Linked DNA regions of Homo sapiens: regions 1 and 2 are each linked to region 3. Evidence: fine-mapped expression QTL. A gene starts in region 3. Each other region holds a variant in brackets. All regions are shown on one strand. Distances are from middle to middle.

Region 1 (10,689 bases), 22 kb after region 3:
ATAGGGTTTCTCTGTCCACACATCTGTCATTGGCTCCATTTGTCCCTCTGTGTCCACACACAACAATACCCTCCTTAGGAAATACTAAATGCAGTATGAAATGGGAGCCACGCAATACTCCAGCAGGCCCCTACAATGCTTTTCACAAGGGACAGGTTGGCTCTCTAGAAGATACTGTGCTTCCCTCTTGTCTGGCTAGCTCAGTCCTATCTGAGAGGGGATGAGTCTGTGGTCAAAACGAGAATTCAGCCTTTCCTCACATCTGTGAATGTCCATGACTCTGACCTTTCCATATCTATGCAGCCTCCTGCCAGGACATGTCCTGCAGCAAACAAGGAGAGTGCCTCGAGACCATCGGGAACTACACCTGCTCCTGTTACCCTGGATTCTATGGGCCAGAATGTGAATACGGTGAGGCTTCCTTTTTGTTGATATTATTTTGGTTTTATGCTAGAGATGATGCCAAGAAGTAAATAAATCATGTTGAAGTCTCTCCAGTGAGAATAGGATGGTACCAGCCCCCCTCTATCATCTGTCTCCTCCACTCAGTGTCCCTAGACACACACTCTAGGTAAAAACATTTTATTCTTGGGAGAAAACATTGACTCATAAATTTCAAAAAAGAAAAGGGAAAGGGAAAGGAAGCAAAACCAACAGAACTTTCAGGCTAATTTTACTTGTTTGAAGTAAAAACTTGTGAAAGAATGACTATTTCCCAAGATGCAGCCAATACAAAGAGACCAAGTAGAGATGGATAGCTTGGGTTAAAAGTTTAGAAAATTAGAGTTAAGAGGGTTACACAAATAGTTACAGCTTTCAGCAAACATGACATTGCTGTTAATTCTACATGGAAAATAAAAATCACTATTTTGTCTCCTGCAGTGAGAGAGTGTGGAGAACTTGAGCTCCCTCAACACGTGCTCATGAACTGCAGCCACCCTCTGGGAAACTTCTCTTTTAACTCGCAGTGCAGCTTCCACTGCACTGACGGGTACCAAGTAAATGGGCCCAGCAAGCTGGAATGCTTGGCTTCTGGAATCTGGACAAATAAGCCTCCACAGTGTTTAGGTATGTAGACCTTATTCTTTTCATCCTCACTGACATAGAATTTTGGGGGAGAAGAGGACACAATGAGCTTTCTCCATTAAAAAATGTGAGAAATAATGACCATCTAGGTTAGATGGAAAACTCTGGTTATCACTGTTAACTGTCAACCAGAGTAACATTAATTTCAATTTTCATGGTATTTTTTTATGGGTAGAGTGACTTAGTCAGTTTAATTGTTGATTCGCAGGCAAAAACATTACAAAGGGACCCCTCTTTCCCTTTGTTAATTGTAAAGTAAACAGAGTACAATGATGAGGACTTAGGGGTTAAGAATTATTAATTTGATAATTTTACCTAACTTCTCTACATGAAAAACAAGGGTGTTTGATCTTTCCAAGCAGCTATTGAAAACACCATTTAACCATTCTAGTGCATCAACCTGCCTGCCACTTTGGGAAGGTGTGACTGCTGCAGAATTTGAAGGCTTCCAAGGTGATGGACAAAATTTGTCCAAGGACTCACACTATTATTCTGTGGTTGGTTTTAGCTGCCCAGTGCCCACCCCTGAAGATTCCTGAACGAGGAAACATGACCTGCCTTCATTCTGCAAAAGCATTCCAGCATCAGTCTAGCTGCAGCTTCAGTTGTGAAGAGGGATTTGCATTAGTTGGACCGGAAGTGGTGCAATGCACAGCCTCGGGGGTATGGACAGCCCCAGCCCCAGTGTGTAAAGGTGAGTTTCAGGTAGTTGGGATGTATAATGTCCATTGCACCCAGTCCTTACTTAGTGCATAGATGAAATTGACCAGCTTATGGAGAAGCTGGCCTGAATTGCCAAAATTTAATTCTCTTCCTACCTGCCATTCAGCTAGATTGGGTTCATCTGAGATGAGAAAGGAAAAAAATTCCTTTCTTTCCCCAAACACAAATGCAGGCAGTTTCAGAATGGCCTCATTCATAATTTCCCCATAAGATTAGAAAGGGTGGCCTCTACATCTATAAGTGGACACTAGAAGACCTACTGAGACAGGTTTATAGAAGTATAGGGAATAGAGGACATTAAGAATACAGCTTGGAGGAATCTTTGTTTTTAACAGACTCAGATCACCCTGGGAACTGGTAATCCAAGTCTGGACAAACATCATTAGGGTCTCTTGACCTTTACATCTTGCTAGCTCCACCTGCATTTCAGAGGTGGTTCCACCATTGCTCTCTGTGTGGCTTTTCTCCTTTCTCAGTATCTTTCTCTTTATCCTTGGTTATTCTCTCCAGCTGTGCAGTGTCAGCACCTGGAAGCCCCCAGTGAAGGAACCATGGACTGTGTTCATCCGCTCACTGCTTTTGCCTATGGCTCCAGCTGTAAATTTGAGTGCCAGCCCGGCTACAGAGTGAGGGGCTTGGACATGCTCCGCTGCATTGACTCTGGACACTGGTCTGCACCCTTGCCAACCTGTGAGGGTAGGATTTTTCATTAGCAACCTCCATTCTGTCCAAGAAGGAATCATGGCATGGTAGAGAGGCCAAGGGCTCTCAGTGTCGGGGTGATCTCTTCTAAGTTCTTGCACTAGAGCAAGCTCTTCAACCTCCAGGAACCATGGTTTTCTCATCTGTGAAATGGAGCTAAGAATTGCAAGGTGCTTGTGAGGATTAAGTACATAAAAAGTATACAATTAAATAGCATGTATAAAGTACCTAGCATAGAGCTTCTGCTCTACTGACATATCCGAGGTATAGGACCATGTCCTATACTTGAGAGGGAGTTGGGAGCAGCGGCTAAGGTGGCTAAAGAGAGTGGTTCACCATGTAGTCTTTGAGGGTAGCCTTTGACAAAGAAGCAAAGGAAGGAACACTGCATCGAAAAAGTGTGTGATGCAATCCCAGGCAATTACATAATTCCGCCAAAATGAATTCTCTGCAATTGCCTCACACCCTCAGTTTATAAGGCGGACAGTGGTAATGGGAGAATAGGAAATTTACGATAGATTAGTGAATTCCCAGACCTGGATGACAAGCCCAACCCTGCTACTATCTAGCTATGAGACTTTAGAGAAGTCACTTAACACTTCTGAACCTCACTTTTCTTGCCTAAAACATAAGAGAGAAGAGAGAAACACTAGAGGATTTTGGTGTTTTTGTTTGTTTGTTTGTTTGTTTGTTTGTTTGTTTGTTTTGAGACAGAGTCTCACTCTGTCGCCCAGGCTGAAGTGCAGTGGCACGATCTCAGCTCACTGCAACCTCTGCCTCCCAGGTTCAAACGATTCTCCTGCCTCAGCCTCCCGAATAGCTAGGATTACAGGCAACTTTTTGTATTTTTAATAGAGACTAGGGTTTCACCACTTTGGCCAGGCTGGTCTCAAACTCCCGACCTCAAGTGATTCACTCACATCAGCCTCTCAAAGTGCTGGGATTATAGGTGTGAGCCATTGTGCTCAGCCGGATTTTTGGTTCTTAAATGCTCTGAGTCTGTAAAAACCAGAGGTCAAAGCCCAGAGCAAAGAGGTAGTCTTTACACTTTGAAAAGTTTCAGAAATAGCCTGGAAATGAAATGCTTTATCAAGGAAGAGCATGAGGAAACCAATCTTTATCAGAACTGAGGTCACTCAGGGCTTAATTGTGCTCAGGAATTCACTTTGGCTGCACTCACTTGGCAACTGAAGTCTGATTAGGATGACATCCTGTGTTCTAGAGACAAAGCCCGGTCAGGATCATTTTACAGGACTAGGTAACAGTGTCAACAATAAGCTATGCTAGTCCAGCTTTTTTTTTTTTCCCTATAAGTCCAGCATTTTCCTGTATATACTCTTTTCAGGTTCAATTTCACAGATAATGTCAATATTTAATGAGCACTTTCAATGTACAAAACACTCTGCTCAGCTCCAGAATAAAACTATGAATGACTGAGCCCAACTTCGAGGAGACCACGGTATAATGGGGAAGAATGACAATCATGTATGAACAGCGCAAGAACAGAGGCTGTGGGAGCACATTGCAGGGGCTTCTACCCTTAGTTAAGGTGGGAAGGGAGGGCTTCCTAAGGAAAGGGAAGTCTAAGCTGAGACCTGAAGGGCAGGTGAGAGTGAGTCAGGCCAAGAGGGGCATGGGAAGGTGTTCCAGGCAGTCTCTCTTTTGGAAAATGGAGGTTTTAGGGTTCTGAACACACTGAAAATGTGGACAGGAAAGATATAGCATCTAGGAATTTTTTCTGAGGAAGAACCCGGCCCTTCCATTACCTGGCTTTAGAAGATACCTTTTCCACTTAGCTATTTCGTGTGAGCCGCTGGAGAGTCCTGTCCACGGAAGCATGGATTGCTCTCCATCCTTGAGAGCGTTTCAGTATGACACCAACTGTAGCTTCCGCTGTGCTGAAGGTTTCATGCTGAGAGGAGCCGATATAGTTCGGTGTGATAACTTGGGACAGTGGACAGCACCAGCCCCAGTCTGTCAAGGTACTGTAACAGTGGTAATGTTTTTCTGTGTGTCTCAGCTCGTTAGAGGCATCAGCATCTGCACTGAGCATTGGCATGCCTTTCTTTATCAGATATTCACTGAGAACCTACTATGGGCCATGTCCTTTGTGCTTGGGACCAGGGATGAGATGAAACGGTGCGTGAAGCCAGTCTTAGGCACATGTCCACTATAGTATAGTCAAGGTGAGGTTTGCACTGATTGACACATATAGGGTGCATTGGAATGAAGAAGATGGGGCTTGGGGGAATAAATCATGCATGAGGAATAGCATGGGATGGGGAAGGGTAATGGACAAGGTGTTTAGCTCAGTCCTGTCACTTCCTGTCCTTAAGCTAGTGGTTTAGACTCTCTGAGGCTCAGTATCTTCTGTAAAATGGGGCTACTATTATCAGCCTTACCTACCTGCCTCACTAGTAGTTGTGAATTAATGTGTGTAAACGCAACTTTAAAACTCTTATAGGATTTATAGGGAAAATGATGATGATGACATGTTACCTTATAAATCACATGTCTGTGGTCTGATTTGACAAAATGATCCTCTTTCAATATGTTAGGTTTCTAATCTTTTGCTCTTATACTAAGGCACTCATGGGGGGCGGGTGTGGTGGTTCACAAGGATTATTATTTTTTTTACGAGGAGTACCTCACACTAAAGTCATGTTCCAGAAGTGTAATATTGACATTTTGTGTTTTCATTTACGGAGACCTCTGAGCAATCTATGTGACTCCTCTGGGTTCCTAAGTATACCTTGATTTTAAAATGAGGCAGTGGTTTGAAAGCAGGTCTTGAAGAGATATTTGTGCACCCATGTTCATAGCACTATTAATCACAACAGTTAAAATGTGGAAGCAACCCAAACACCCATCAATGGATGAAAGGATAAGTAAAAAGTATTCCACATACTTACAGTGGAATATTATTCAACCTTAAAGAGGAAGTAAATTCTGACCTCTGCTACAAACATGAATGAACCTTGAAGACATTATGCTAAGTGAAATAAGCCACTATGAAAGGACAAATACTGTATGATTCCACTCATATGAGGAACTTAGAGTAGTCAAAGTCATAGAGACAGAAAGTAGAACGGAGGTTGCCAAGGGCTCGGCGGAAGAGGGAAATAGGGAGTTATGGTTTAATGGATACGGAGTTTCAGTTTGAGATGATGAAAAGAGTTTTGGAGATGAATAATGGTGATGGTGGCACAATAATATGAATGTGCTTAATACCACTGAACTGTACACTTGATATTGGTGACATGGTAAATGGTAAATTAAATTTCATGCTACGTATATCTCACTATAATAAAAAATTGAACAGCAAAAAAAAAAAAAAAGAAAAAACAAGAAGGCAATAGAATAGATGGCTATACACCATGATGCTGACAC[T/C]TAGTCTGAGTTATGGAATGTATTGTATATGTTATCTGGGAGAAAAAGACACAATGAGCTCTTTGACACACTTAAAACGGATCATAAGGGATTATTCAAGCCATTGTTGTCTCCAGGAAGGTAAATGTCTAATCAAGAAAAGATAGTTGGATATTCTCTTAAGTATCCAGAGATGTGGTCTCACTAACCCCCTTCATAGGCCTTCTGAATGTTTCCCACTCCTGAACTCAGTGTCTGCATGTGACGCAAAGCCTTAATGATATTATTACTATCTATTACTACCACTGCTACTAATATAGCAGCTAATGTTCATTGAGCACTTTCTATGATCTCAGTCTAACTCTATGAGGTAGTTACAATTATTACTACCATTTTAAAGATGAGAAGAGACAACACATGGAATATGTGTGCTCTCTTCGTATATGGTTATTTATTTTACATCTTTGAGATCATGGTGTATATTATAATTTTTACTCTGATTTTTTATTTAACATCATACATTGAGACCTCTCTCCTATCTTTACAAGTTAAAATATATTATTTTTAGTGACCTTTAACATTCTTTTCATGGATCCACCATCATTAATTTCCACCCTCAATTAATGGCATTTGTGTTTGTTTTCAATATTCCGCTCTTACAAATAATGTCTTCACAAAAATCTCTAAATAGATTTTTTGGTATGCATCTTGATTACATACTTAGCATAAATTCTTGGGTCCAAAAGCATGATAACTTAAAAATTATTGACACATGTTGCCAAGATGCTCAACAAAGGTTTAGCATTTCCTAATAAAATCCTTCATGTGCCGTTATAATTAAATGACACTTTTTCTTATCTTCTATGTTAAACAAGCCCAATTCAGGAATCCCTGTTCTTGACACTAGAAAGAGTTAATGGTCAAAAATCAATGAGTACATGTGTATTACTGTTTCTTTATTCCTTACTTCCTCATCCCTTAGCTTTGCAGTGCCAGGATCTCCCAGTTCCAAATGAGGCCCGGGTGAACTGCTCCCACCCCTTCGGTGCCTTTAGGTACCAGTCAGTCTGCAGCTTCACCTGCAATGAAGGCTTGCTCCTGGTGGGAGCAAGTGTGCTACAGTGCTTGGCTACTGGAAACTGGAATTCTGTTCCTCCAGAATGCCAAGGTAAGAGTGTATTCTTTCTAACATCATGGAAATAAATTGTAGGCAGTATTTTTAAAGGCTGGATTTTAGAGGTGACAACTATGTAAGATCCACCTTGAAATGGACTGGAAAATTCATAAATACTCTCACTCATCCTCTTGTCCTATAACCCAAGGATCCCAAATGCAAATGCCTCCGGGGGATAGGCAGATTACACAAGTGTCAGGATGTCTGGCCATAGACAGTAGGGCATGGCCCTTGCTAACTCCTTATCAGGGTCTTTACCCAGACCTGAAGGCTCCTGCCACAAACCAGGTAAACTCTTCTCACCTGGCCAAACATGGCATCTGGAAAGAAGACCAGGTGGGAAAAAAATTGCTTCAGAGTGGTTGTCCCAAGGCTGGTCTGGCACTTCTAGGAACCACAGGGTATAATGGTAAAATGGGAGGGGCAGAATTTACAAGTACCCAGTTGCAAACACTCCAAGATCTGTATAAAATTGGAGAAATAGACTTAGAATAAGGTGAAGAGTGATAGAAAAAAGAGAAAAACTAATCTGTATACTGGAGGTTACGGGATTCTCAGAAGAAAGAAATGTGTGGATTCAGTATAAACATTCTATCTGCATTGTACTTGATATACATACATTTTTTGAGACGGAGTCTCACTCTGTCGCCCAGGCTGGAGTGTAATGGCACAATCTCGGCCCACTGCAACCTCCGCCTCCCGGGTTCAAGCAATTCTCCTGTCTCAGCTTCCCGAGTAGCTGGGACTACAGGTGCCCACCACTGCACCCAGCTAATTTTTGTATTTTTGGTAGAGATGAGGTTTCACCATCTTAGCTAGGCTGGTCTCAAACTCCTGACCTCAGGTGATCTGCCTGACTCGGCCTCCCACAGTGCTGGTATTACAGGTGTGAGCCACTGCTCCCGGCCTTGTACTTGATATTTAACAAGCCAGTGTGCTCTGTCAGTATTGCAACATCTTGTATGAACTTGAACGGGTTCTAGTCATCCATGTTTGTGAATTGAAGGATAGACGTATATTTTTTATATTCCCCAAGCTTTTTCCCCCTCAATGTATCCAATTCCTTAGTTAACTTTTATAGACAATGCTGCTTTTTAAACGCAAGATTTTCATTTATAAAAATCTGCAGAAATATAATAAAGAAATGAAGAAATATCCTCTTAAATACTCCTATCCTAAAATAGACACTGTTAGGCTTCTGGTATGAATTCTTCCAATATTTTCTCCGCTTTTCCTCCTATGCAATTAATATTTTTATGATGTATATACAATTTTAACAATAAAGTTGAATGGGTAAAAGACTAGACAGTTCTACATTATTTGCCATACCTTTCACTTTGTATAGACTTTCAACATTTGAGTGAAAGTGGGCAGATACATATTTTTTACTAAAAGGAAACCACTCACTATTCAGGTCACACAAAAGCATAATCACATACACACACACACACCCCCCACACACACACCCCATTGTTAAGCTAGGTCAACAGTAAATGAATGAATGAATGAATGAATGAATGAATGAACAAATGGACAAGCAAACAGCAGAATTGAATGTCCTTCATCGCCAGGCACCAGAGAGGATGGCAAGCCCCTGGACTTAGGGTTGGGTGCACCTTCAGAGCTGGGTCTGGAGAGAACAGGGCGGGGCTGTGACCTTGCCCCTTAAGTGCTCATCCTGGCTACGTTGAAGTCTGGACATATCACAAAGTCCACACAACTTTGGGGAAGTTGTGGGAAGAACTGGGAATCCCTGAGGACAGTGATCACAGTGATTGAAACTCTTACAGGCAAGCCTGGGTGGTGCAGGGCACAGATTACAGTTCATTGCTCCATACTGTCCTGCCTCTGGGTGTTTCACAGCAAGGAGGTTGCCACTCACCACGGCTTCCTGTGACCTTCCAGTTCCCTTCTGCTTTTAGTTCTTTATTTACTCTGAACTTTCTCCTCTTGTTGCTGGGTGCACATCAAGTGAAATACCCAAATGTGGGCTGGGCAGGAAGGTACCATGCAGTGTGCAATCCACTCGCTGTTGTAATACTTCTGAGAGAGTGTTATCAGACAATTTCCCTTTTTAATGTCCTCCCACCCCTCCACATCTACCCCTGCTGTCAGAAGGCAAAGCCACAGAAGAGCTGGAAATGGGTTCTGTGGTACCAACATCCTCACCCACACCCTTTCCCCCATAAGTCCTTGCAGTTTATAGGCTTCTTGAGTTGTGTCCTCTCCAGCCCCACATACACACTTACTACAGAAATACTTTTCAACTAGAAGAAAAGAACCAGATCTTTGGACAAGTTGATCAGATTGAAAGGAATGTAGCTAGAGAGGGGAAGGAATGAAGGGAAGAGAAAGGCGTAGAAAGTGTTCTTGAAACCTCATGCTGTTTAAGTCAGTGGCTGAAAAATGACCCTAGGAGCAAGGACTTCATGTCTAAAACACCAAAAGCAATGGCAATAAAAGCCAAAATTGACAAATGGGATCTAATTAAACTAAAGAGCTTCTGCACAGCAAAAGAAACTACCATCAGAGTGAACAGGCAACCTACAGAATGGGAGAACATTTTTGCAATCTACTCATCTGACAAAGGGCTAATATCCAGAATCTACAATGAACTCAAACAAATTTACAAGAAAAAAACAAACAACCCCATCAAAAAGTGGGCAAAGGATATGAACAGACACTTCTCAAAAGAAGACATTTATGCAGCCAAAAGACACATGAAAAAATGCTCATCATCACTGGCCATCAGAGAAATGCAAATCAAAACCACAATGAGATACCATCTCACACCAGTTAGAATGGCGATCATTAAAAAGTCAGGAAACAACAGGTGCTGGAGAGGATGTGGAGAAATAGGAACACTTTTACACTGTTGGTGGGACTGTAAACTAGTTCAACCATGGTGGAAGTCAGTGTGGCAATTCCTCAGGGATCTGGAACTAGAAATGCCATTTGACCTAGCCATCCCATGACTGGGTATATACCCAAAGGATTATAAATCATGTTGCTACCAAGACACATGCACAGGTATGTTTATTGCGGCACTATTCAAAATAGCAAAGACTTGGAACCAACCCAAATGTCCAACAATGATGGACTGGATTAAGAAAATGTGGCACATATGCAAGGATTTTCCTTTTTCCCATTTCGAAGATAAAGCAACTGAGGCTCAGAAAGGTTATTGTCTAGTGATAGATTGCTAGCAAGTAACAGAGCCAAAATTTGGGCGCAGATTCCACCACTTGGTTGGGAAAGGGGGAAGAAAGTATTTTCCTCCATTTCTGTGTTTCCAATCATTTGTCATTGTTTTCTGGTAAGGTCATTGGGGTGTTTCTGAAGAAGGTATCAAGGGAGAAACCAGTTCCACCCCTGTCTAGAAGCAACAAAAATGAGTTGCACCACTATCCTCCCAAACAGAGCACCAGCTTCCTTTAAAAATCACCTCTAAAGCTGTTTGTGATTGAGCACTTCAGGATGTCAATCAACTGTAAGCTGCTGCTATTTTACACCTCTACAATCTCTAACTGGTGATGAAGCATCATGAAATTCAAACAATCACTTTTAGCCAAATACCATCGTTGTATATTAATCACACACACACACACACACACACACACACACACACACACACA
Region 2 (10,689 bases), 39 kb before region 3:
TTTAATGATTTTTAAATCAAAATTTTAAAAATAATAACATTGATTTTATCATATAAAATGAATACACGGTTTTCATTTGGAAAAAATGTCCCCACTTGATATAAAAACAAGGTTTTTATTTTAAAAATTATCTTTCAGCGGGTCTGAGGAAAAGAAAAAGCTGATGTCCAAATGAGGAAAAAAAATTACAGTGAATCTTTCCATAAGACTTACCTTTGCAGTGGAACTACATAAAAATTGAGAACTACTCCATAAAATTTCTCAACTAAGCATTGAATAAGAGTTATTTGGCTTCAGAAGATCCATACTGTACTCAAATTTTTGAGTAAAAATTTAACAGCATATCTTGAATATTTAAATAAATATTTGCTTCACTTAAACCAAACAAGACAAACACCAGAAAGGACCTGTTCTTCATGGCAGGCCATGCTATAATGTGGAAAAAACAAAGCCTACAAAACCATTCAGAACTGAGTTTAAATCCTGATGCTTCCAGTTTCTAGTCAAATGGCATGCCCCATGCATTTAATCTCTCCAAGGCTCAATTTCCACATATGTACATACAATGGACGGTTGTTATGAGATTAAAGATCATTGTGAGATTAAACATCATGTGTGTAAGGTACTTGGCTCTTTGCTTAATAAATGTTAATTACTCTAATGAGGTAAATATTTTATTTTAATATGAATGCTCAGATTTATACCACAAAGTAGCTTAACCCCACCCCCCCACCATTAACTTTTAGGTTCAGGGGTACATGCACAGGTTTTCTATATAGGTAAATTGTGTGTCACAGGGGTTTGGTGTGCAAATTATTTCATCACCCAGGTAATAAGCACAGTGTCCTATGGGTACTTTTTGATCCTCACCCTCCTCCCACCCTCTATTCTCAAGTAGGTCCCATGTCTATTGTTCCCTTCTTTGTGTCCATGTGTACTCAATATTTAGCTGTCACTTATAAATGAGAACATGTGGTATTTGGCTTTCTGTTCCTGCATTAATTTGCTTAGGATAATGGCCTCCAACTACATCCATGTTGCTGCAAAGGACATGATGATCTTGTTCATTTTTATGGCTGCATACTATTCTGTGATGTATATGTACCACATTTTTTTTTTTTTAGCTAGTCTACCACTGATGGGCATTTAGACGATTCCATGTCTTTGCTATCGTAAATAGTGCTGTAATGAACATATGCATGCATGCGCCTTTACGGTAAAACAATTTCTATTCCTTTTGGTGTATATCCAATAATGGGATTGCTGGATTGAAAGGCAGTTCGGTTTTACATTCTTTGAGGAATCACCACACTCTCTTCCACAATGGCTGAACTAGTTTACATTCCCACTAGCAGTGCATAAACATTCCCTTTTCTCCACAACCTTCACCAGCATCTGTTATTGTCTGACTTTTTAATAGTAGTCATTCCTACTGGTATTAGATGGTATCTTATTATGCTTTTGATTTGTATTCCTCTAATGATTAGTGATGTTAAACATCTTTTCATATGGTTGTTGGATGTGTGAATGTCTTATTTTGAAAAGCATCTGTTCATGTCCTTTGCCCACTTTTTAATGAGGTCATTTTTTTGCTTGTAAATTTGTTTAAATTCCTTATAGATTCTGGATATTAGACCTTTGTCAGATGCATAGTTTGCAAAAAATTTTTCCATTCTGTAGGTTGTTTACTCTGTTGATAGTTTATTTTGTTGTACAGATAAACTATCTGTTGTACAACTAAAGAGTTTCATTAGTTTCATTAGTCAATTTGGTTTTTGTTGCTATTGCTTTTGGTGTCTTGTCATGAAGTCTTTGCCAGGTCCTATGTCCAGAATGGTATTTCCCAGGCTATCTTCCAGGGTTTTTATAGTGTTTGGTTTTAGATTTAAGTCTTTACTCCATCTTGAGTTATTTTTTGTATATGATGTAAGGAAGGGGCCCAGGTTCAATCTTCTGTATATAGCTAGACAGTTATCCCAGCACCATTATGGAATAGGGAGTCCTTTCTCCATTGCTTGTTTTTGTGGATTTTGTCAAAGATCAGATGGTTGTCAGTGTTCAGCATTATTTCTGGCCTCTGTATTCTGTTCCATTGTTTAACCCCTCTTTTGAGTGAAATGTATTATGCGCAGCAGTCAGAGGTTATTAAGGTGACTTCCATTTGTACATCTTTGCAGAGCCTTCCCTGGCTTTGGTCTGCACTTCTCAGGGCTGGCTCTGCAGATGAGGAATGAAGAAACAGTAACAGACAGAAAAGTCTCTAGGGGCTCAAGGAGCAGATCTTGTGGGAAAAAAGAAAGAAGCCTGTAACTTCCATTCTATAGCACCAATTTACTTATTTTCAGACTATTGCCCCCTGGCAAGTTTTAAATACTTTCTACTGTATCTTTAATCCCACCTATTGGTCCCACTTATTGGTGCCTGGTAGGAAATAGGCACCAAATTTCTCCTACAAGAAAAATGTGGTTCTTTTCTGTTTACCAAGTGCTGGTAGATACAATGTATCAGGTGTTAGAAGCACATGCTGTCTTCTTGTAAGATACATGAAAAAGACACAATGCTGAGACTTCTTAAGAACTGGAATCAAGAAATAAACGGGCTTTGGAAAATGGAGAGACTCTTACCCAGTAAACCTTCATTCTGGATTTTATACTCTAACTTTCCCTGTGAATTTTCCTACTTGTAAATGACTGATGGCTTAAGGTAAAACAAGATTAAGCCAGAGGCTTGCTGGGGCTAACTGAGCTACTCTACAGTGACATGAGAAATTATTAACTGAACTTCTTTGAAGTATAATATACACATGGAAAAAGCTAGATATAAAAAAATGCATTTTTACAACCAACACATCCTGTAGCCAGCATCCAGATCATTACCACTCCCCAGAGGATTCCTTATTTACCGCTTCTGGGCATTAAACTGTCCCCTCCCCACAAAGGTAGCCTCTCTTCTGATTTCTAACACCACCATGAATTGGTCCCACCTATTTTTGAACTTTGTATATAGAGAGAATCTTTCAGTATATGTTCTTTGGTCTGATTTCTTTAACTCAGCATTTTATGAGATTCATCCATATAATTGTATGAAGACTGTTCACCATCATTGCTGTGTCTGTGTGTCATATAATTGTATGAAGACTGTTCACCATCATTGCTGTGTCTGTGTGTGATATAATTGTATGAAGACTGTTCACCATCATTGCTGTGTCTGTGTGTGCATTTATATACTTATTTATATATCAAATGCATAATAGGTAAAAATTTTGATCAGATATGCTTTTTCAACACATAGAAGTTAAAAACAGCTATGCACTGATGTGAAGCTTTTCTTTTTCCAACTTTCTAACTTCCCAAAAAGTCTCCTAAATGAGTTAGGCAAGGAAACTTTTCGCTATAGAAAAGAAGATGTTGGATTCCTGTTAATTCTAGTTTGTTTAGATTTTTCCACAGTGGGAGGTGTTAACAGGGGAAGAAGTACAATGCTGCCTGGGAAAGCCTGCCACTGTTTATCATCCAAGTATGTCAGGTCAATCTAACTGATTTCCTGTGCTTGAAGACAGGAAAAGACGTTGCTGCCTGGCTGCTCCTGCCCTCGGTTTCAAACCAAAGCTGGGGTCAGGCCCAATTGTGAAGTGGTTTAAATTGGTCTCTAGTGCCACCCCATTCTCCTTTCTATACCATCAGATACCCTCCCCCTATTGCTCACTAAGGAGCTTGTGATTATAGCCTTCCTCTTCATCAGTAGATAACATACCACCTAAAAGTGATGTTTTTTAAAAAAATTACACTTTAAGTTCTGTGATACATGTGCAGAACGTGTAGGTTTGTTAAATAGGTATACACATGCCATGGTGGTTTGCTGCACCCATCAACCTATCATCTACATTAGGTGTTTCTCCTAATGCTATCCCTCCCCTAGCTCTCCACCCCGCAACAGGCCCTGGTGTATGATGTTCCCCTCCCTGTGTCCATGTGTTCTCATTATTCAACTCCCACTTATGAGTGAGAACATGCGGTGTTTAGTTTTCCGTTCCTGTGTTAGTTTGCTGAGAATGATGGTTTCCAGCTTCATCCAAGTCCCTGAAAAGGACATGAACTCATCATTTTTTATGGCTGCATAGTATTCCATGGTGTATATGTGCCACATTTTCTTTATCCAGTCTATCATTGATGGGTATTTGGGTTGGTTCCAAGTCTTTGCTGCTGTGAACAGTGCTGCAATAAACATATGTGTGCATGTGTCTATAGTAGAATGATTTATAATCCTTTGGGTACATACCTAGTAATGGGATTGCTGGGTCAAATGGTATTTCTGGTTCTAGATCCTTGAGGAATCGCCACACTGTCTTCCACAGTGGTTGAACTAATTTACACTCCCACCAACAGTGTAAAAGCATTCCTATTTCTCCACATCCTCTCCAGCATCTGTTGTTTCCTGACTGTTTAATGATCACCATTCTAACTGGCATGAGATGGTATCTCATTGTGGTTTTGATTTGCATTTCTCTAATGACCAGTGATGATGAGCTTCTTTTCATACATTTGTTGTCCACATAAATGTCTTCTTTTGAGAATTGTCTGTTCATATCCTTTGTCCACTTTTTGATGGGGTTGATTTTTTCTTGTAAATTTTTTGAAGTTCCTTGTAGATTCTGGATATTAGCCCTATGTCAGATGGATAGATTGCAAAACTTTCTCCCACTCTGTAGGTTTCCTGTTCACTCTGATGATAGTTTCTTTTGTTCTGCAGAAGCTCTTTAGTTTAATTATATCAAATTTGTCAATTTTGGCTTTTGTTGCCACTGAGTTTGGTGTTTTAGTCATGAAGTCTTTGCCCATGCCTATGTCCTGAATGGTATTGCCTAGGTTTTCTTCTAGGGCTTTTATAGTTTTAGGTCTCACATTTAAGTCTTTAATCCATCTTGAGTTAATTTTTGTATAAGGTGTAAGGAAGGGATCCAGTTTCAGTTTTCTGCATATGGCTAGCCAGTTTTCCCAACACCATTTATTAAACAGGGAATCCTTTCTGCATTTCTTGTTTTTGTCAGGTTTGTCAAAGATCAGATGGTTGTAGATGTGTGGTATTATTTCTGAGGGCTCTGTTCTGTTCCATTGGTCTATATATCTGTCTTGGTACTGTGTCCGGAATTGGTGGGTTCTTGGTCTCACTGACTTCAAGAATGAAGCCGCGGACCCTCGCGGTGAGTGTTACAGTTCTTAAAGGTGGTGTGTCCGGAGTTCGTTCCTTCTGATGTTCGGATGTGTTCAGCCTTCTGGTGGGTTCGTGGTCTCGCTGGCTCAGGAGTGAAGCTGCAAACCTTCTCGGTGAGTGTTACAGCTCTTAAGGTGGCCCATCTGGAGTTGTTTGTTCCTCCCAGTGGGTTCGTAGTCTTGCTGGCTTCAAGAGTGAAGCTGCAGACCTTCGCAGTGAGTGTTACAGCTCATAAAGGCAGTGTGGACCCAAAGAGTGAGCAGCAGCAAGATTTATTGCAAACAGTGAAAGAACAAAGCTTCCACAGCGTGGAAGGGGACCCAAGCGGGTTGCCACTGCTGGCTCATGCAGCCTGCTTTTATTCTCTTATCTGGCCCCACCCACATCCTGCTGATTGGTAGAGCCAAGTTGTCTGTTTTGACAGGGCGCTGATTGGTGCATTTACAATCCCTGAGGTAGACACAAAAGTTCTCCACGTCCCCACCAGATTAGCTAGATACAGAGTGTCGACACAAAGGTTCTCCAAGTCACCACCAGAGTAGCGAGATACAGAGTGTCGATTGGTGCATTCACAAACCCTGAGCTAGACACAGGGTGCTGATTGGTGTGTTTACAAACCTTGAGCTAGATATAGAGTGCCGACTGGTGTATTTACAATCCCTTAGCTAGACATAATGGTTCTCCAAGGCCCCACCAAAGCAGCTAGATACAGAGTGTCGACTGGTGCACTCACAAACCCTGAGCTAGACACAGGGTGCTGATTGGTGTGTTTACAAACCTTGAGCTAGATACAGAGTGCCGATTGGTGTATTTACAATCCCTTAGCTAGACATAAAGGTTCTCCACATCCCCACCAGACTCAGGAGCCCAGCTGGCTTCACCCAGTGGATCCCACGCCGGGGCTGCTGGTGGAGCTGGCTGCCGGTCCCGTGCCGTGAGCCCGCACTCCTCAGCCCTTGGGTGGTTGATGGGACTGTGTGCCGTGGAGCAGGGGGCAGCGCTCGTCGGGGAGGCTCGGGCTGCACAGGAGCCCAGGGAGTTGGGGGAGGCTCAGGCATGGTGGGCTGCAGGTCCCAAGCCCTGCCCCGTGGGAAGGCAGCTAAGGCCTGGCGAGAAATTGAGCACAGCAGCTGCTGGCCCAGGTGCTAAGCCCCTCACTGCCCAGGGCCGGTGGGGCCGGCCGGCCGCTCCGAGTGTGGGGTCCACCAAGCCCATGCCACCTGGAACTCGCGCTGGCCCACAAGCACCGCATGCAGCCCCGGTTCCTGCCCGCACCTCTCCCTCCACTGCTCCCCTAGAAAGAGGAGAAGCCATGTTGCCCAACTCCAGAGGCTTGTATAAGAGTTTGAAAGATGTCTGATTTCAGAAGCCTTTTCCTGTAAACACCGGGCGGCATTTCGTACTATCCCTGACTGGTTAGTGTAAAAACAACACTCTTGCCCTAAGAAGGTGCAGAGTCATCCTTTTTCAGCAGTGAGGAGGTCTAGGCCTTGGC[G/A]GTTTTGGAGAGTCACTGCTACCAAAGAGTCTATTTGGGACTGTAAAGTAAGGATAGATTTCATTATTTCTTGCAAACTGTCTGAGAGGCAGATATGGGTTGAAGATCCACATAAGTAGAATATGCCTTGGCTGGGTAGATAGACATTTACCCTGGGTTTTAAAGGAATAGGGTACACTGTTTTTTTTTCTTTACTACTTCCATCTCTCTTTCTCTTTCTCTTTGACTTCTCCTTTGTCTCTCTTTCTCTTTCTCTTTGACTTCTTCCTCTCTGTCTCCTTCTCTGTCTCTTTGACTTCCTGTCTCTTTCTTTCTCTCTGTTTCTTCCTCTCTCTCTTTCTCTGACTTTCTCTTTCTCTCTTTCCTTCTTGCTGATCTTTCCCTGCCTCTGCCAGCCGCTTATGCTGCTGCTCTCCCCTCTTCTTCCCATTTTGATGGCTTTGGCAGTGTAAGAGTGCCACCCCCTTGTGTTTTTGCATTGTGTGCAATAACTCTATAATTTCCTTGTGGTATTTGATGGGGGTTCCCCCAGAGGTTAGGAACTCCCTCTCTTTCCATATTGCAGCATGGGCATATAGGATTAGATAAGCATACTTGCTATCTGTATACACGTTTATTCTTTTTCCCTTTCCCAGTTCTAAGGCTTGGGTAAGTGCCACTAGTTCTGCTAACTGGGCACTGGTCCCTGGGGGAGGAGGCTTACTCTCAAGTATGGTTACATCACTAACTATGGTGTAACCTGCCCTTCGTATCCCATTCTCCACAAATGAACTTCCATTGGTATATAGGTAAAGGTCAGGATTAGTTAAGGGGACTTCTAAGAGCTCATCTCAGGCGGTGTGAGTCTGGACTATAATTTGTTGGCAGTCATGCTCGATTGTTTCCCCGTCCTCTGGGAGAAAAGTGGCAGGGTTGAGGGCCACACACGTGTGTATTTGAAACACTGGTCCCTCAAGGAGGAGTGCCTGGTATCTAAGTAGGTGGTTGTCTGATAGCCATAAACTTCCTTTGGCACCTCGTATGCCATTTACATCATGAGTAGTCCAGACAGTGAGACCCTTTCCTTGTATTATTTTGATAGCCTCTGACACTAAGACGGCCACTGCTGCAACTATGCTTAAACAGTGAGGCTAGCCTTTTGCTACTACATCAATTTCCTTACTTAGCTATGCCACTGGTTGTGGGGTTGTCCCACGAGTCTGAGTAAGGACTCCAAGAGCTATCCCGGCTCTCTCTGTGACGTATAAAGAGAAGTTTTGTCCTGTGGGAAGGCTTAAAGCTGGAGCTTGTACTAGGGCCTGTTTTAAGGTTTTGAAGGCTCTTTCTGCCTCTGGTTCCTATTCGACTAGATGAGTATTTGCCCTCTGGGTTTCCTTGATTAGAGTATAGAGGGGCCTGGCTATCTCACTATCTGGGGATCCATAGTCGGCAAAAGCTAGCAATTCCAAGGAACCCCCTCAACTGTTTTAATGTCTTAGGGTGACGATAAGCCAGTATAGGCTGTATTCGTTCCTTGCTGAGGGCCCTGGTCCCTTTGGCTAAGATTAGGCCTAGATATTTAACCTGCGGTAGGCAAAGCTGGGCCTTCGACCTAGACACCTCGTACCCTTGATTAGCTAGAAAGTTCAAGAGATCTAGAGTAGCCTGCTGGCACGAGGCTTCCGAACTGGTAGCCAAAAGTAAATCATCCACATATTGAAGGATCAGAGTGCCTGGACTTGAGAAGTGGCCTAGATCTTGGGCCAGTGCCTGACCAAACAGATGAGGGCTATCCCTAAACCCTTGGGGCAAGACCGTCCACGTAAGTTGGGACATGTGGTCTGTGGGATCCTCAAAAGCAAAGAGGAACTGGGAATCACAGTGCAGGGGAATACAGAAGAAGGCATCCTTGAGGTCCAGAACCATGAACCATTCTGCCTTCTCTGGTATTTCAGAGAGCAGGGTATAGGGGTTGGGTACAACTGGATATAGTGGAATTACTGCCTCATTGATGAGTCTAAGATCTTGCACTAGTCTCCACTGACCATTCGGTTTTTGTACTCCTAGAATTGGGGTGTTGCAGGGACTGCTGCATTTCCTTACTAAGCCTTGAGCTTTCAAATGTTTAACAATATTCTGTCATCCTTTATGAGCTTCAGGCCTTAAGGGATATTGCCTTTGATAAGGAAAAGTGGTGGGATCTTTTAACCTGATTTGGACTGGGCGGGCATTTTTTGCCCTTCCAAATTGTCCTTCCAATGCCCAGACTTCAGGGTTGATTCCCTCCTCAAGTAGGGGACAACAAATGGGTAACTTGTTCCCCATATTCATGTAGATAATAGCTCCAGCCTTGGCTAATATATCCCTCCCTAATAAGGGTGCGGGACTTTCAGGCATAACAAGAAAGCCATGTGAAAAGAGCAAAGTCTCCCAATTACAACTGAGAAGGTGGGAGAAGTACCTGGTTACAGGCTATCCCAGGATTCCTCGGATGGTAACGGACCTTGAGGACAGTCATCCAGGACATGAGATTAACACTGAGAAGGCCATGCCAGTGCCCAGGAGGAAGTCAATTTCATGGCCCTCAATGGTGAAACATACCTGGGGCTCAGTGAGGGTGATGACATGAGCTGGCGCTTGCCCCGGGCACCCTCAGTCCTGTTGTTGGATCATCTGGTTGGGGGCTTCTGACCCAGGGAACCTTCATCCTCTGGCACAGTGCACCTTCCAGTGATTGCCTCAGCATAGTGGACATGGACAAGGGGGCAGCTTGTTTCTCATTGGACAATCTTTTTAAGTGTCCTAGTAAATCACACTGATAGCAAGCCCTACCGGGTGATTGGCCTGCTCCATTTTCTATCCTCTCTGAACCACCAAGGTTTGTTTATCTGAGGGCCATGACTAAGGCTGCAGCCTTTCTCTGATCTCGCTTTTCCTTTTGGGCCTCTTTCTCTTGGTCCCTATTATAGAATACTGAGGTTGCCAGGTTTAATAATGCCTCTAGATTTTGTTCAGGGCCCAGGGCTTGCTTTTGGAGCTTTCTCCTGATATCTGCAGCTGATTGGGTAATAAACTTATCTTTTAGAATCAATTGACCCTTGAGTGATTCGGGTGACAGGGGAGTATATTTTCTTAAGGCCTCTCGTAGCCGCTCAAGGAAGGAAGAGGGATTTTTCTTTCTTTCCCTGAGTTATGGTGGACATCATTGAATAATTCATCAGTTTTTTTCTAATTCTCCTTAGTCCTTCTAGAACATAGGTCAACAAATGTTTATGACTCCAGTCCCCATGATCGGAGTCAAGGTCCCAGTGGGGATCCATACTGGGGATGGCTTGCTGACCAGTAGGGAATTTGTCCCTTTCTTTGGTTGTCATTCTATCATTTACTTGACTAAGATACCAGGTATCTCCAAACTCTCGGGCTGCAGCTAAAGCTGCATTCTTTTCATTAAAGGACAGGGTTTGATCTAACAGTAGCATGACATCTCTCCAAGCAAGGTCTAAGGTTTGCCCTAGACCCTGTAGGACATCTACGTACCTATCAGGATCATCTGAAAACTTCCCCAGGTCTACCTTGATCTGCTTTAAATCAGAGAGGGAGAAGGGGACATGTACCCAGGTTGGGCCAAATTCCCCTCCCCCTACAGCTTGAAGGGGACATAACCGATAGCCCAGGGGTTTTTGTGGTCCCTTGGAGATTTCTTTGCTTGTTTCCTTCCGGCAGGGGAGATTAGAGGAGGATTATTATTAATAGGAAGGGGAGCTATAGGGAGGCTGGGATATGGGGGTAAGCTGAGAGGTCCTCCTGTGGGACATAAATTGCAAGCTTTGCATAGTTGTGTATTCTCCCTCAATGAAAAGAAAGCTTGGACATAAGGTATTTCATTCCATTTGCTTTCCCTCTCACAGAAAAGGTCAAGCTGCAGGATAGTATTGTAATTTGTACTTCCCTCAGGTGGCCATTTTTCCCCATCAGAAAGAGAATATTGGGGTCAAGCCGTAGTG
Region 3 (10,689 bases):
TACACATGATCATGGTGAATAATCCTTTTAATGTGATGTTGTTGCTTTGTAGTTACTGTGAGACTTAGATAAAACATATAATAGTTATAACAGGCTATTTTAAGCTGATAAAATTTAACTTCAAGGATAAAAAAACTCCACACTTTTACTCTCCCTCCACATTTTATAGGTTTTTAATATTTTTCAGACTTTATGCTTTTGATGTTATAATTTACATCTTTTATATTGTGTATCTGTTAACTTATTGTGGTTATAATTATTTTTAATAGTTTTGTCTTTTAACCTTCATTCTAAAGATATAAGTGATTTATACAGCACAATTATAATATTGGAAAATTCTGAATTTGACTGTATTTTTATTTTTACCTGTGACTTTTATACTTTCGTAGATTTTCATGTAATTAATTAACATCCCTTTCTTTCAGCTTGAAGAATTCCCTTTAACATTTCTTGTAAGGCAGGTCTCGTGTTGATGAACTACCTCAGCTTTTATTTGTTTGGGAAAGTCTTTATCTCTTCTTTATTTCTGAAGGATGGGACTCTTGGTTGGCAGTTTTTTCTCTTTCAACACTTTGAATATATCATCTCACTCTCTCTGGGCCTAGAAGCATTCTGCTGAGAAATCTTGTGATAGCCTTATTGCAATTCTTGTCTGTGATATGCTTCTTTTCTCTTGCTGATTTTAGGATCCTGTCTTTGTCTTTGATTTTTGATAGTTTGATTATTATGTCTTGGTGTAGTCTTTTTTGGATTGAACCTGACTGGAGATTTTTAAGCTTCCTGTACCTGAATATTAATATTTTATTTCAGATTTGGGAAATTTTCAGCTAGCAATCTTTAAATATGCTTTCTGACCCCCTTTTCCTCTATTTTCTCCTTCTTAAACTACTGTAATGTGAACATTAGCTCTCTTTTTTAATTTTTAATTTAATTTTTGTTTTTATTTTTTGAGATGCAGTCTCACTCTGTCACCCAGGCTGGAGTGCAGTGGCATGATCTCAGCTCACTGCAACCTTTGCCTTCTAGGTTGAAGAGATTCTGCTGCCTCAGTCTCCCCAGTAGCTGGGATTACAGGCATGTGCCACAATCCCTGGCTAATTTTTTTGTATTTTTAGTAGAGACTGGGTTTCACCATGTTGGTCAGGCTGGTCTTGACTCCTGACCTCAGGTGATCCACTCACCTTGGCCTCCCAAAGCGCTGGGATTATGGCATGAGCCACTGAGTCTGGCTGAATGTTAGCTCTCTTGATGCTGTCCCATAAATCTTGTAGGCTTTCATCATTTCTTTTCATTCTTTTTTCTCCTCTCACTGTATATTTTCAAAAACCTGTCTTCAGTTCACAGATTCTTTCTTCTGCTTGATCAAGTCTGCTACTGGTGATTTCTACTGCATTTCTCACTTCATTCATTATATTTTTCAGCTCCAATTTCTTTTATGATTTCAATCTTTCTGTTACATTTCTTATGTTGTGCATTTATTGTTTCTCTGATTTCACCAAATTGTTTCTCTGTGTTTGCTTCAAAGTAACTGAGCTTCTTTAAAAACAATTATCTTGAATCCATTGTCAGGCCATTTGTAGTACTCCATTTCTTTTGGGTCAGCTACTGGGAAATTATTGTGTTTCTTAGGTGGTGATATTTTAATTTGGGTTTTCATGTTTCTTGCTGCCTTACACTGCTGTCTGAGCATCTGGTGGATCTGCCCCAATTTCAGGCTGTATGGGCTGACTTTGGTGGAGAAATACCTTCTTATGTGGAATAATGCGAGGATGCTGGCTGGGTGGGATGCAAAAGTTCTGACTTCAGTAGGGGCAAAGCTGTGTGGTCTCCATGCAGATCTGTCAGCTGAGGTTGGTGTTAGTGAATACTACAGGGATCCTTAGAGGCCAACACTGTGGGTATCTACAGTGGCAATGAGGCTGTTGAGGTTTTCAATTGTGACAAGTCCTCCATATCTCTTTTTTTCCCCACCTGGGAAGTCATGACTGAGGACATCCCTCTTGGAATTAGGTCTAACTTGCAGGCCTGCTCCTGGTGGTGGTGACACTGGTGTCTGATGAACAGTGCCCATGGAGTGGCCAAGAGCCAAGGCCTGAAGCATGGGCATGCATGGAGGGACCACAGCACCAGATTCAATTGTAGCAATGGTACCAGTGCCCAAGGCACAGGCATACTTACTATCACATTGATAATGGTGTGTAAAATGCAGGTACTTATAAAGCAGCTAAGGAGCCAGGGACTTTACTGCATGCATACGCAGAGCTACAGTGGCTCCAGGATCCAGGGTGTGGGCTAGCTCTCCTTGGTGGCTGAGCTGGTGACTAGAGCATGGACAGGCACAGAGAAACCTTGACTCTAGGACCCAGGGTGTTCACTAGCTCACTATAGTGGTGGCTCTGGTGTTGGAGGTGTGGGTGTGTGTAGTACAGCCTCAGAGACAGGGTCTGGAGCGCAGGTGTGCACATTACTACAGCAGCTCTGGAGTTGAGAATATGGGTTACCTTTCTACAGTGGCTGAACTAGTGTCTGGAGCAAAGACTTTCACAGAGAGAACTTGGCTTGGGGTCCCAGGGTGAGATCTAGTTCACAACAGCAGTGACTCCAGTGTCTGAGACATGAGGAGGTGCACTGCAGCCACAGAGCCACAGTCCAGAGTGTGAATATCTGTAGAGCAGCCACAACTTTTGGGGATCAGGAACACACATAGACTTGTGAGAGGTGGTAACCCTGGCCCCAGTCCTGGGGCAGTGCAACAATAGCTGCTTCTTGGTGAGGGGGTGTGAGGGGTAGTGCAACTGTGTTTCCCTTTTTAGCATCCTGCTATGGGAATGGCTGTTGGATAAAAGATGCCAGTGTCCTCTGTGGAGCAGGACACTGGGGGCCTCAGTGGCTCTGTGTCACATGACTGACACAGATAGCCTACAAATTTCTTTATTCGTAGCTATCTCCTGGTGTCTCATATATGCCAGTCTCACCGGTGATTCTTCTACATGGATATTCTTTCTTTTCTCCATTGTGTTGTTCCAAATTCTTTAACAGGCTCTTGAGCCCCATCCCCCAACTCCCCACCCTTGTGAGGGCTATTTTGGTTTGTGTATAACTGTCTATGTTTGTTTTTTTGTTGGGGCATAAGGCTGACATCTCCTACTCCACCATCTTGCTAATGTCACCTGCATAGGAATCTTTTTATGCTTTCCTTATATTCACTAAAATTTAACAATATCAAACTTAAAAACATATGATCAATTGAACTTATTAATATCAAACTTATTATAAATAAGAAACTACCAGGCTGGGCATGGTGGCTCATGCCTGTAATCCCAACATTTTGGGAGGCTGAGGTGAAAGGATCACTTGAGCCCAGGAATTCAAGACCAGCCTGGGAAATATAGAGAGACCCTATCTCTAGAGATTTTTTTTTTTAATTAGCCAGTAGTGATGGCACACATCTATAGTCCCAGCTACTCAGGAGGCTGAGGTGGGAGAATTGCTTGAGCCCAGGAGGTCAAGGCTGGAGCAAGCAGTAATCATGCCACTGCACTCCAGCCTGGGCCGCAGAGTGAGACCCTGTCTCAAAAAAAGAACCTACTAGTCTACATACCACACTTCCTCATCCCCATCTGAGACTATATATATTTTTTCTAACATGAGGCAATGCCAAAAAGAGGGGCTGGTGAGTGAAAGTAAGAACAGAAAGACATGGAGGCAAGTCTTATAGAATAATAGCCAACACTTAAACTTACACTTAACAGCGTGATAGGTATTGTTCCAAACACATTAAATTCATTTAATGGTCCTTACATGTCTATGTATTTGGTGATTATTATCCTTATTATTCACATTGCTGAGTGTATTATTCTGTTCTCATGATGCTGATAGAGACATACCCGAGACTGGATAACTTATTAAAAAAAAAAAGGTTTAATGGACTCACAGTTCCACGTGGATGGGGAGTCCTCACAATCATGGTAGAAAGCAAAAGACACGTCTTACATGGCAGCAGGGAAGAGAGAGAAATGAGAACCAAACAAAAGGGGTTTCCCCTTATAAAACCATCAGCTCTCATGCGACTTATTCACTACCATGAGAACAGTATGGGGGAAACCACCCCCATGATTCAATGATCTACCAGGTGCCTCCCACAACCTGTGGGAATTATGGGAGCTACAATTCCAGATGAGATTTGGGTGGGGACACAGCCAAACCACATCACTGAGGAAACTGAGTTATAGGGAGATTAGTAACGCCCAACACAGCTGGTAGGTGGTGGAGCCAGGCAGTCTGACTCTAGGGTCTGGACTCTGAACTGCATCATGCTGCCAAGAAGTTCCTCATTTTTTCCTCTCTCTAAGTTTCCCTTATTCCCCTACAGTCATTCCTTCAACAGCATTTCCTTCACCATCTTTTCTACTTCTACTATATAATTAATTTTTTCTTCTTGGTCCCAAATTCCAACGTGCAAATGCAGCCTTATATACCCTAATTCATCTTTACCTTTAGACTTTCTTCCAATGTTTCTACTTCATTCCATTTTAAATTTATCCATGAGATGCCTATTTACAAGCTGTAACCATCATGAAGTGAATGAAGAATAATACCTACTACTGTACAATAGAATTCCAAGAGTATAAATAGGAGTTATGGCTTTCTGACTTGAAACTAAATACTTGATACTTGATTTTGCTGTCTGAGATCAATCTGAAAAGTAATAATAATCACTAACATTTGTTGAGCATCAATTGTGGGCCAAGTGTCATTTCAATCACTCTGTACATATTAACTCATTTCATCCTACAACAACCCGGTGAGGCAAGTTCTGTTATTCTGTTTTACAGTTGAGGAAACAGAGGCATAGAGAGCTTAAGTAGTTTGCCCAGTAGATAGCCAGAAGAGGAGCCAGGATGGGTCTCGGGCAGTTTAACAGCACAGCTGAAGTCTTAACCACTATGCCAACAGCTTTTTGGTCCTACACATCCCATGGGAAGAGGAAAATAAAAAGGTATCTATTTGTATACCTTTTTATTTCTGATATAAGAAGCAGAATTCCTTTCACATGACCTATGTCTATTTAATACGTCATTTTGAAACTTACCAATAAAATTTCCCAAGCGCCAGAAAACTGTTAGTGGCTTTTTCCATTTCTCTCTATTTTTTTTTGTGCTACTAATTTTGCTTCTTTCCCTCAGAAGGCTGCCGGAATAGTAAACATTCACTGACATGTCATAATTACTGGAAAATGGGCACTGGAAAATCACATTGTAATTAATTCAAAGCATGTTTTCCAAATGTACTACTTTAAATTGGAGCTTATATCATAATCCAAGGAAACCTTTGTGTGTGTACTGTTCCCACATTGCTCAGCCTGGGATATCCAGGAGTAATTCACCTTGCGCCTGCCTCCAGACCATCTTCCATGGAAGGGGGTGACCCCTTGCCTCTTGGCAACCACTATTTCTAAGCTGCCAACATTACTCTTGCATTATCAACATTCTAACTTCATGGGAAGGGCTGTGGTGAGTTTCTGGAATGTGAATAGGAAGTTGTTTTTCTAAACAGCCTGACACTGAGGGGAGGCAGTGAGACTGTAAGCAGTCTGGGTTGGGCAGAAGGCAGAAAACCAGCAGAGTCACAGAGGAGATGGTGAGTTTATTTTTTTCTGCATGGGAAGTGGTTGAAGTGAGTTGGAGTGGTATGGAGTAAAGTCAGGCAGGTAAAGGTTCAGAAAGTGAGGAACAGCGATAGCCATGGAGTTTTATGTTGAATTGCCTATTAGATTTTGTGAGTACTTTTAAACTTGCTGTCCACTTTGACCCTCCCAACACCCTTGTGAGTTGAGGTTGCTATTTCTATTTTACAAATAAAGCCATCGTGGTTTACAGAGGCTGTGTTTTATCTAAGCTTCACTGTTAGGCTACATGATGTTGGGATCTGGGGCCTGTCCTCTGGCTCCGCAGCTGCTGTTCCTCCTACTAGAATTTATAGGGGCTCTCTGAGAATAGATCATGGTAAACCTGTCACCCCATTTTCCAAGACTGTACTTCTCTCTGGGATAAATGATGGAATAAATGGAAGACTGGGTAGGTGCCCTGGGACAAGCTTACAATTGAATAGTTTCTCATCCCCATCCCTCCCATTTCTTTCTGTGAGCCTATGAATCTTCTGGGACTGATCTGGAATATCCACATAGTTTCCTTTTCTGCCCTAAGACTCAATCTTGTTAATGACTCAGTTTCTTCTTCTATAAAATGGATATAGTAATAATACTCTATAGTTTCATCATGAGGATTAAATAAGATTTTGCTGAAAAGCATCCAGATCTGAGCCTGACACATAGTAAGTGATTAGTAAATGTTAGCCATTATTGTTACAATAAAAAGAAAATTCTTAGGAATAGTGGGGTTTAGGATTCAGGGAAGATCCAAGGATAGCTAGGCATTTTGAACTCAGCAATGTTATATGCTCATGGATAAGATGCACGTGGTTAGGCTACTTCTAATTCAGGGAAGATCCAAGGATAGCTAGGCATTTTGAACTCAGCAATGTTATATGCACCTAGATAAAATGCACATGGTTAAGCTACTTCCAATTTTCCTCAGACTTTCCAAGAGTATCCCACATAGTCCCAGGGTCCGAAATCCTGCAGTCTGTGGCTATGGAGGAACCAGGCAGGTCTCTGTTTTTGAGCACCTTTCTGTGGGACTCCAGAAAAAAGTACCGCATACACCTGATTCATCCTACTGCTTTGCTTTACTATAGCACACTTTTCAAGTACTTATAATGTGGGTTTCTGTGTTGGGGAAAACAGGAATAAGAGTATGATAAAGAGAAGAGGAAGGAGTTTGAGCCTGTCTTAAGTTTGAACCACAATGACCTAAGGATATGAATTACTTTTGTCCTGTCTTTTTGCATGTCATACTTCTGAATTGGTTAACTTAAATGAGCAGTTATTCCTCTCTTCCTTCTACTCTCCTTGGCATCCTCCTCTATTTCAAAGGTATGAACTTATTGGATCAGAGAGTTCTTTGAGATTTTGATGAAAGTTACAACTTGTCTTTCCCAGATGAAAGCAAAAACATCGACATAAACACCAACCTTTAGAGACAACCACAGGAGGTTCCCAGACCTCCATGTGGATCCCAGGGTAAGAACCCTTCTCGATTGCCTCCTGGGCTTTATGTTCAGAAGCCCCTCTCTTGGTACCCTGAAATTAGGCTTGAGCTCTACAGCGAAGTGCTAAGGCCCCAGCCCTGGAATGGTTTTTAATATTTCAAAGACAAGACCTCTTCCTTTTCCTCTGAGCACATTTGGCCCCAAAGATTCAGAAACCTCAAACTGCCTGTGTAAATTTTGCTTCAAGTTCAGAGAGTGGCTTTAATTAACTTTTAGGACCTGAGAAAATGAGGATAAGGTTTTTCTGGTGGGGTATTTTCAATCAGATAGATCTCAGAGGAGTAGCTCTTGATTGGGAACTTATAGTTAAATTGCACTGATGTTTGTCAAAGTTTTAGCGGGCTATGGCCGGGCTCAGTGGCTCATGCCTGTAATCCCAGCACTTTGGGAGGCCGAGGCGCATAGATCACTTGAAGTCGAGAGTTCAAGAGCAGCCTGGCCAACATGGTGAAACACCATATTTACTAAACTTACAAAAACTGGCTGGGCATGTTGGCATGTGCCTGTAATCCCAGCTACTCAGGAGGCTGAGGCAGGACAAACTCTTGAACCCAGGAGGTGGAGGTGGCAGTGAGTTGAGATCACACCACTGAACTCCAGCCTGGGTGACAGAGCAAGACTTGTCTCAAAAACAAAACAAAAAAAAAGTTTTAGTGGGCTAAGGAGCAGGTCTGGATTTTCGTCCATTTATACCTTTTAACCACCTTATGTGGCTTCCAGTCCTTACTCTTCTTTTCATTACCTGTTTTTCAAAATGCAACTAAAATAGTTCAGACTCTCCTGGGCTAGCCACCAGCTCTTAGAATGTGCATCTTCAGAGATCTTTAAGTAGAAGCTTATTGATCAAATCCTCAAAAATCAAAATGACTTACTACATAAAAAACTGTGTTTAGAAAAAACCCTGGACCTAAACCTAGAGAGTAGGCACACAGTGGTTTTATAAATGACATTCATTATATTGTCTTCAAGGTGTCTAATCTTTTTGATTAAAAAGTAAATCAGAAACTTCATGAAGTCAAATACAGAGCAAATCCTCACTATTTGTAGAGATATAACTCATCTCTGATCCAATAGACTTTTTAAAAAATTTTAAGTGTCGTACTTTATTTTTAATGCTAATATTTTACTCAAAATAATGGCAATTGGTAGTCTAAATTAAATATATGCTTGGATTCTAAGTGTTGATGTCCTGGGTCCCTTCTTGTCTATATTCATAATTTGCTCTTTGGCTTAGAGACAACCTCTTTTCTCACTGTATTTCTTTTTCCACCCCTAAGCTGGGCTACCAATATCTGTGCCACACCACTAACACCACCACCGTCCAGAAACATAAGGGAACTAATGTATTAGCTGTAATAGCTTGTAACATCTGGGCTTTGCTACCAACAAGTTGTATAGTTCTGCATCCTCAACAACTCTCATATTCACCTCCCCTATTTGCATTCCCACTGATGCCAGACCAAACCTGTCCCTCTTTAACTCTCACTGGGACCATTGCAATAGCCTCTTCTTTTGCAGTGCAATCTCCCTGATTGTAACTCATTTAAAAAAAAAAAAGTATCGCACTACTCTCACCCCTATAATATCAGCATTTTTGGAGGCCAAAGAAAAAGTATTGCTTGAGCCCAGGGGCTCCAGGCCAGCCTGGGCAATATAGTGAGAACTTATCTCTACAAAAAATTAGCCGGGTGTGGTGATGCATGCCTGTAGTCCCAGTTACTCAGGAGGCTGAGATGGGAAGATCACTTGAGGCCAGGAGGTGGAGGTTTCAGTGAACCCAGATCATGCCACTGCACTTCAGCCTGGGCAACAGAGCAAGACCCTGTCCCCCAGCCCCACAAAAAAAATCATACCACCATTAAGTGCATGTGTTCATGATACTTCTCTGTTCAGAAGTATCCCTTCTGCCAACTGGTATTTGTGACCCACAAGATATGGTCTCAAACTACCTTTTCAGTTAACCTCTAGGATCTCCCAATCTTCAGCAGGCTGGAGTGCAGTAGTGCCATCTCAGCTCACTGCAACCTCTGTCTCCTGGGTTCAAGCGATTCTCCTGTCTCAGCCTTCTGAGTAGCTGGGATTACAGGCATGCGCCACCATGCCCAGCTAATTTTTGTATTTTTTAGTGGAGTTGGTTTCGCCATGTTGGCAAGGCTGGTCTTGAACTTCTGACCTCAAGGGATCTGCCTGCCTTGGCCTCATAAAGTGTTGGGATTACAGATGTGAGCCACCGTGCCCAGCTTCCGTTGGCTTATCATTGCACTTAGAATAAAATCTCATCCCCTTGTTTTGGATCCCAAAGCCCGATGTGATCTGTCACTACCCCCGGCTCGTATTTTTCTCTCCATTGCTCATTCCATTCTGGCCACACTAATGTCTTCATGTTCTTTGAACACACTGCAGTTTGCTTCCACCTTAAGGCCTTTGAAATAGCTTTTTCTTCTTCCTTTAATGCTCTTCTTCCTGCTTCTCACTGGCTGGTTTCTTGCAGTCATTCTTCTCTCCACTTAAACATTATCTCATTAAAGAGGTCTTCCCTGACGTTCCTGACCAACATAGTGACACAGTCATTCTATCACATAAGTTTCATTTCCTACCTAGCACTTATGGCTATATTCTGTTAATATTTTTCATGTTTACTTGTTTAGTACTGTTGTGTAGTTATTAGTATTTGTTTCATTGTCTTCTCTACCAATAGAATGTGCATTCTATGAGGACTGGAATTATGTCTGTTTTCACCATTTTATTTGTTCACTTAGCTATTATCACTACTGTAAAAGTAATGCATTCAGTTATAATTATTATGTATTTTTCCAACATTTTCTTATTTAGCATATTTTTGTCTTACTTTCAGTTATTCCTCTGCCATTATTCATTCATATATTTATCCATAAAATGTTTATTGAGTATTGAGTATGTGCCCTACCATGGCTGGGGATTCAGACCTGAGTAAGTAATAGTCCTTGCCCTTGAGAAGCCTCTGTCAGTAGCTTCCTCAGCTGTATGCTCACATGTTTGTTGCGCATTTAAATTGTGGACCTCCTGCTCAAGAGAATATTCAGAAACGGAGATGCTGATTAGAGGACATTGGAAACAGATGACCATAAGGAGGTCATCTTTACTTCCCAGGAAAGCAGAAGAATGAGAAGAGAATAGGGCCATGGAGGTGGGAACCTAGAGAAACACTTACCTCTGCAAGGGAAGGCAGAGGATTGAGGTAGATTCAGAAGAAGACTCAGAAAAGTTTCTCAAACATTAGAGCAGAAGAACAACAGAAGAGCTAAGGGAAGCATTTTAGGCAAAAGGAAGTAGTGGTATTTACTGCTACAGAAAGGTCAAGGAAGATAAGGGTGGAAAGTCTTCATTTGGTTTGGTAATGAGGATGTCAGCAATGAAGTTTGCAGGGACACTTTGATAGGATGGTCGGGCAGTGGGCTGGAGAGTAAGGGGGAGGCAAGGAAGTTAAGAAAGTTTAGCTATAAGAGGAAGGAGAGAAACAGGCAGATGTGGGCAGGAGGA

Alleles and levels. Positions count from the first base shown, and alleles are read on the strand shown. Sizes are in standard deviations (SD) of each study's normalised expression. Not every link is listed here.
In carriers of allele G in region 2, the expression in neutrophils of the gene that starts at base 5,588 in region 3 tends to be higher than with A alone (large effect, 0.83 SD a copy in BLUEPRINT).

What was found.
Region 1: its variant is fine-mapped to the expression of SELP in blood mononuclear cells (TOPMed, PIP 0.94).
Region 2: its variant is fine-mapped to the expression of SELP in neutrophils (BLUEPRINT, PIP 0.95).

What each region holds. Positions count from the first base shown.
Region 1 is chr1:169,603,308-169,613,996 of GRCh38, reverse strand. It overlaps SELP (selectin P), which reads left to right. Exons shown (of 17, transcript NM_003005.4): 4 at 304-411; 5 at 883-1,068; 6 at 1,595-1,780; 7 at 2,320-2,505; 8 at 4,308-4,493; 9 at 6,863-7,048. Among named protein-coding and RNA genes, the nearest start is that of SELP, 21 kb to the left of the region's middle. RefSeq lists an enhancer at 9,019-9,128. The variant T/C (reference allele first, on the strand shown) is at 5,902.
Region 2 is chr1:169,663,858-169,674,546 of GRCh38, reverse strand. The region is part of intron 1 of LOC107985745 (a long non-coding RNA gene); the gene reads right to left. Among named protein-coding and RNA genes, the nearest start is that of SELP, 39 kb to the right of the region's middle. RefSeq lists an enhancer at 6,315-6,820. The variant G/A (reference allele first, on the strand shown) is at 6,707.
Region 3 is chr1:169,625,023-169,635,711 of GRCh38, reverse strand. It overlaps SELP (selectin P), which reads left to right and starts at 5,588. Exons shown (of 17, transcript NM_003005.4): 1 at 5,588-5,640. The coding sequence starts at 5,638.